2 linked regions of the Homo sapiens genome follow. The protein of the gene in region 2 purifies or fractionates together with the protein of the main gene of each other region. This does not show direct contact. Each region holds a gene or a part of one and is shown on either strand. Other genes may lie near its edges.

Region 1 (3,500 bases), about 63 Mb from region 2:
ATTTAGATAAATGCATGTAGCACATTGAGTAGAGTGAAATTAGCTTCTCTTGTAAGGCCAGCTGGTTAGAATGAAGGTGTTGTGTGAGTGTTAGGCCCAGCGAGAGAGAACAGTTTCTCAAGGTAGGAATGGTGAAAAGAAGGGGTGGACGGACAACCAACCAACCATCCTCCTCTGGTATCTACTTTGAGGGTTGAAATAGGGGGCCTGACCCCAGGTGAATGTGGCTGCCTTCCCAGAGCCCCCATTTGCAAGACCCTCCAGACCCCCAGGTGCTTCTGCTTGTGTCTTTTGTGGCACCAGGCAAGAATGTAGCAGCGTCAGCAGCCCCTCTGGTGACTGTGGCATGGTTGACATTCATTTCCCCCCTAATTAATGGCATCCTCATGATTCTCTTTTATATTAATAGTTCTTGAGTTTTTTTGTAAGCTACTTCAAATCCTTTGTTGGTGCAAGATAGAAGATATTTTATGTGTTTGTTTTGCATGTGCACACACATATTTGGCCTGTGAATTGATGTTTGTTTTCCTGTCATTTAACCAAAGCACATGAGATAATTGAGCCATTGCAGAGACCCCGTGGTTAAATCCGGCTTCTCGAGGTACCAAGGACATTTCCTGGGCTTTCTCACAGCCCTACATATTTTTGAACCTAAAATATCGTAGTTTATGCTACCACCCTGTTCAGTATAGTAGCCACTAGCCACATGTGGCTGTTGACCACTTGAAATATGGCTAATGCTCTAAGTATAAAGTACACACTGGAATTTAAGAAGTGTAGAATATCTCAAAACTTTTTTATATTGATTACACATTAAAATGATTATATTCCAGATATATGCAGTTGACTCAAGCAATGCATGGCTGAGAGGCACCGACTCCCTGTGCAGTTGAAAATCCGAGTATAACTTGACTCCCCAAAAACTTAACTACTAATAGCCTACCTATCGGTTGACTGTTGACTGCAGCCTTACCAATAAGATAAACAGTCAATTAACACACATTTTTCATGTTGCGTGTATTATATACTGTATTCTTACAATAAAGTAAGCTAGAGGAAAGAAAATGTTATTAAGAAAATTATAAGGAAAAGAGGCTGGGCATGGTGGCTCGTGCCTGTAATCTCAGAACTTTGGGATGCTAAGGCGGGTGGATCACTTGAGGTCAGGAGTTCAAGACCAGCCTGGCCAACATGGTGAAACCCCATCTCTACTAAAAATACAAAAATTAGCCAGGCGTGGTTGTGGGTGCCTGTAATCCCAGCTACTTGGGAGGCTGAGGCAGGAGAATCACTTCAACCCAGGTGGAGGAGGTTGCAGTGAACTGAGATTGCGCCACTGCACTCCGGCCTGGGTGACAGAGCGAGACTCTGTCTAAAAAAGAAAGGGAAAGAAAGAAAAAAAAGAAAAGAAAAGAAAAGAAAGAAGGAAGGAAGAGAAAGAATTATAAGGAAGAGAAAATATATTTACTATTGATAAAGTGGAAGTGGATCATCATAAAGGTGTTCATCCTCGTCATCTTCATGTTGAGTAGGCTGAGGAGGAGGAGGAGGAGGAAGAGCAGGGGCCACGGCAGGAGAAAAGATGGAGGAAGTAGGAGGCGGCACACTTGGTGTAACTTTTATTTAAAAAAATTTGCATACAAGTGGATCCACAGAGTTCAAACCCATGTTGTTCAGGGGTCAACTGTCTTTGGTTAAATAAAATATATTATTAAAATTAATTTCACCTGTTCCTTTTTACTTTTTCTAATGTGACTACTAGAAAACTTAAAATGACATCTGAGGCTCCATTGTCTTCCCCTTGGGCCAGCACTACCACAGAATGTCTTAGGATTCAGCTCCAGGCCGCCACGCCTGCTTCTTTCAGGGAGCTGGTTCTATGCACATGTTTTATATGAGAGATAATTAAGTTGTCAATTGTGATAACAAAACAGGATTTGACTTTGTACAGAATTCTTTGGTTCCAACCAAGCTCATTTCCTTTGTTTCAGCAAACCTCGGACAGCCAACAATTCAGAGTTTTGAACAGGTGGGAACAAAAGTGAATGTGACCGTAGAAGATGAACGGACTTTAGTCAGAAGGAACAACACTTTCCTAAGCCTCCGGGATGTTTTTGGCAAGGACTTAATTTATACACTTTATTATTGGAAATCTTCAAGTTCAGGAAAGGTGAGCATTTTTTAATTTGTTTTTATGACCTGTTTTAAATTGTGAATACTTGGGTTTTACAACCCATTTCTTCCCCAATTCAAAAATAGCAGAACAGAGTTGTTGAGAAGGTGATGGAGTAGAAGGGGGAGCGCGCACTGTGGGGAGGGGTGGACAACAGGCCTGGTCCTACCTGTGACTCTGCACTACCCTGTGACTCTGGGCAGGGCCCCCTCGGAGACCCAGGTTCCTCAGCCAACCGGCTGGATCAGGTCATCTCTAAAGGTCCCGCCATGCTCACATTTCTCCCTCTATTGAGGATCCCAGGCACAAAATTTGTTTTTGGTTCAATGCATAATACTCCCTTCCTTTTTCTTTTACTGCAGATATCTTCTAAAGGGGCTCAATAGGGTTCAATATGCCTAAATTGGATCTTCTCAGTCTTGGAAAAGGCATTTTTAGCAGTGATCAAGGGAAACTGATTAGCGAAGTCACTTCTAATCCTTCACGTGTCAGCTGTGTTCTTGTAGGCTTTGCTTAGAACCTAGGTTTTTACTTCCACAGTGACTTAATAAAGGGGAAAGAATTGACTCAGAGCCCAGATGAATTAAGAACTCTATCTTTTTACAGAAAACAGCCAAAACAAACACTAATGAGTTTTTGATTGATGTGGATAAAGGAGAAAACTACTGTTTCAGTGTTCAAGCAGTGATTCCCTCCCGAACAGTTAACCGGAAGAGTACAGACAGCCCGGTAGAGTGTATGGGCCAGGAGAAAGGGGAATTCAGAGGTGAGTGGCTCTGCCAGCCATTTGCCTGGGGGTATGGGTGCTGTGGGTGACTTCTGGAGGAGTAGCTCCACCCTCAGGGCTGGGATATACTTCCTTGGTTAAATATTCAGGAAAACAAACTGCCTGGAGGTTTTTTGTTGTTATTTGTTTGTTTTGGTTTTGATTTTGCTTTGGTACAAAAAAGATTTTGGACATTTAGAAATGTTTCTGTGTTGATTGTGCCCTTGTATTAGCAGGTGTTTTCTTGAGCACCTGTCATGTGCTAAGCCCTCTGCTGAGCACTGGATACACAAACTGTGTTTAGGATTTAGCAACAAGTCACAGATTTCCCTGGGCATTTTTTCATGCTTAAATTCTAATTCTGGGGGTGGCTTCTGGACCAGCTGCAGCAGGACACAGTAGACATTCGTGAGTACCCACTGTGGGCTGTTGCCACAGAGGCTGTAGAGTCTAACCCATCAAGGGAAGGGATTGAGTATATCAAATATACCCACATGCATGCATGTGTGTATATGGCGGACACGTGTGTGTACATGCATGTGCATATGTTGGGAGCTCAGG
Region 2 (3,500 bases):
TTACAGGTAAAGTACGTTTCTTACAGGTAACACAGAGTTGGGCAACATTTTTAATACCCATTCAGCGAGTCTATAAATATATCTTTTCTTTGTTTGTTTGTTTTTTGAGATGGAGTTTTCACTCTTGTCACCCAGGCTGGAGCACAATGGTGTGTTCTTGGCTCCCTGCAAATTCCACCTCTCGGGTTCAAGAGATTCTCTTGCCTCAGCCTCCTGAGTAGCTGGGATTACAGGCACCCGCCACCATGCCTGGCTAATTTATTTGTATTTTTAGTAGAGATGGGGTTTCACCATGTTGGCCAGGCTAGTCTCAAACTCGTGACCTCAAATGACCCTCCTGCCCCGGCCTCCCAAAGTGCTGGGATTACAGGCATGAGCCACGGCACCCCATCTATATATTTTAAGTAAAGAATTTAATCAATTTACATTCAAGGTTATTACTGATATGTGAAGTTTTCTTCCTGTCATATTGTTAATTGTTGTCTAGTTGTTTTGTGTATTCCTTGTTGTTTTTTCTCTTAGTGTGTATTTTCTACGTCTAACAATCTTGGGGAATTTAAGTGGTTTGCAATGCTTACTCGGCCAGTACCTGACGACCAAGCCTCAAACCTAACTTTATTGCACCTCCTGGCTTTACCTATGCATTTTCATGATGGTAAGTATTGTCCTTTCGCTTTCAGGCTTAGGACTCCCTTGAGCATTTCTTACAGGGCTGGGCTAGTGGTGATGAACTGTATCAGCTTTTGCTTATCTGGAAAAGATTTTATTTCTCCTTATTTATGAAGGATATTTTGCTGGATTTAGTTTCCTTCACTGGCACTTTATTTATTTTAGCACTTTGAATATTTTATACCATTCTCTCTTGGCCTGGAAGGTTGGAGTGTATCTTTTGTTTTGTTTTGTTTTGTTTTTCTTTATAGGTGACTAGAGGCTTTTCCCTTGCCATTTAAAAAATTCTGTCTTTGTATTTGACTTTAGACTGTTTTATTATAATGTGCCATGGAAAAGACCTTTTTGCATTGTATGTGCTTGGGGATCTCAGAGGTTTTGTATCTGGATGTCCAAATCTCTTGCTAGACTTTGGAAGTTTTCATCTATTATTTTATTAAATAGGTTTTCTAACCTTTTCATTCTGTCTTTGCCATCTGGGACCCCAATAATTCGAATACTTTTCCAAAAGTATTCAAAAATGTGCCAATTCTTGGTCCTCCAAGTGACTTAATCACATACCCGAAGTGGCTATGCTGGGCCAGGCAGGTGAAAGGATTCTCAGGCCCCTGGGCAGCCAGCATGGTTTGGGCAATGGCAGTGGCAGTGGCAGGTCCACCCTCTGAGTCCCAAACAATGGATACTGGTGTTGGTAGTGGCTGTGATAGGCTGGGCAGGTCAGACTCCAGACCTGCAGATGGTGCATGCGGGTAGGTATCAGTTGTGGTGATAGTGGCAGAATTGGTAAGCCCAACCTCAGGTCCCCTGGAGGAGTGTTAGGTGCCGTCGTGGTGGACTGGGCTGGGCAATTCCCTGGTCTCCAGGCTGTGTGCTCTGGCATGGTCAGGGGAAGGGCAAAACCATGCTGGGTGGGCTTATCCTCATGCTCCCTGATCCTCTCTGCTCTCTTTTCTCAGCAATTCTTCACTATCTTCTTACCACTTCAATGTTTATAAACAGACTTTAAAACTCTTTTGCCCAGCCTTTCTAGTTGTCCTTAGTAGAAGATTGGTTCAAATGCATTCATTAACCATTACTGGAAGTTTGAAGACATCTACCTTTTACAACCAACATATTCCTTAAGCTGCCGTGTCTTTTGGCATTTTCAGCATGACTATATGTTTTTGTAATGTATTATTTCTAATTTGTCAAGAATTTAGACAAATCAGAGTGATTTGTCATACTGAGCCCTATTAATATTTCACAAGTCAAAAAAAATTACCAGTGACCCAATTATTGTGTCATCCACATATGGCAGGTTTACATATATTATCTGTAATTATCAAAAGTTATTTTTAAAAGTGTGCCTTTTGGGGGAGACAAGGTCTTGCTCTGTTGCCGAGGCTGGAGTGCAGTGACACGATCTTGGCTCACTGCAGTCTTGATCTGCCAGGCTCAAACCACCCTCTCACCTCAGTCTCCTGAGTAGCTGAAACTACAGGCCCATGTCACCATACCCAGCTAATTTTTTTGTAAAGATGGGGTTTTACAATGTTACCCAGGCTGGTCTCGAACTCCTGAGCTCAAGCGATCTGCCTGACTCAGCCTCCCAAAGTGATGAGATTACAGGCGTGAGCCACCACTCCCAGCCTAAGTGTCTGTTTTCTATGTCTAACAACCTTGGGGAATTTAAGTGGGTTTTTTTGTGCTCACTCAGCCAGTAAAGGGCAGACCAGAACCTGTATCTGCCTGACTACTATGCCTCAAACCTAACTTTGTTGCACCACCTGGCTTTACCTATTCTCCTCCCATAAGTTTCACCTATGTCAGTAAGGTGTTATTTATTTTAACCTATCAGATACAGGACAAACATGGGGCACATCAGAATCTCAATGATAGCTTTGAAGCTTTTGTAAAACGCTTTCTTACACTTATCTACTGCAACAGGTGAAATAAATTTTGGAACTCATTAATTTTCTTCCACATAGTAAACATTTAAGCTAGTATTTTATTTTATTTTTTACTTCCAACGTTTATTTTAGGTTCAAGAGGTACATGTGCAGGTTTGTTACATAGGTAAATTGGTTGTCTTGCAGGTTTGGTGTACAGATAATTTTGTCACCCAGGTAATCAGCATGATACCAAATAGGCAGCCCTTCCTTCCTTCCTTCCCTCCTTCCTTCCTTCCTTCCCTCCTTCCTTCCTTCCTTTCTTTTTTCATTCTTTCTTCTTTCTTTCTTTCTTTCTTTCTTTCTTTCTTTCTTTCTTTCTTTCTTTCTTTCTTTCCTTCTTTCTTTCTTTCTTTCCTTCCTTCCTTCCTTCCTTCCTTCTTTCTTTCTTTCTTTTCTTTCTTTCTTTTTGACAAAGTCTCACTCTGTCTCCCAGGTTGGAGTGCAATGAACAATCTTGGCTCACTGCAACTTCCACCTCCCGGGTTCAAGCGATTTTCTCGCCTCAGCCTCCTGGGTAGCTGAGATTACAGGTGCCTGCCATGACGCCCAGCTAATTTTTGTATTTTTTTTTTAGAAGAGATAGCATTTCACCATGTTGACCAGGCTAGTCTTGAACTCCTAGCCTCAAGTAATCCACCCGCCTCGGCCTCGCAAAGTGCTGGCATTACAGGAGTGAGTGAGCCACCACGCCTGGCCCCAATAGGTAGCTTTTCAATCCTCACTCTCTTCCCTCCCTCCACCCTCAAATAGGTCCCAGCATCTGTTGTACTCTTCTTTGTGTTCATATGCACTCAACGTTTAGCTCTCACATATCAGTGAGAACATGTGATATTTGGTTTTCTGTTCCTGTGTTAATTCACTTAGGATAATGGTCTCCAGCTCCATCCATGTTGCTGCAAA

The links. The genes of interacting proteins can lie anywhere in the genome.
Region 1: the proteins of FCRL2 (region 2) and F3 purify together in Homo sapiens (affinity purification with mass spectrometry; one large-scale study listed by BioGRID and IntAct). This does not show direct contact.

The regions. Positions count from the first base shown.
Region 1 is NC_000001.11:94,531,760-94,535,259, reverse strand, and holds part of F3 (tissue factor isoform 1 precursor), read left to right. Parts: intron 1-1,991; coding exon 1,992-2,170; intron 2,171-2,779; coding exon 2,780-2,939; intron 2,940-3,500. UniProt on the Homo sapiens protein: Initiates blood coagulation by forming a complex with circulating factor VII or VIIa. The [TF:VIIa] complex activates factors IX or X by specific limited proteolysis.
Region 2 is NC_000001.11:157,760,133-157,763,632, reverse strand, and holds part of FCRL2 (Fc receptor-like protein 2 isoform 1 precursor), read left to right. Parts: intron 1-3,500. UniProt on the Homo sapiens protein: May have an regulatory role in normal and neoplastic B cell development.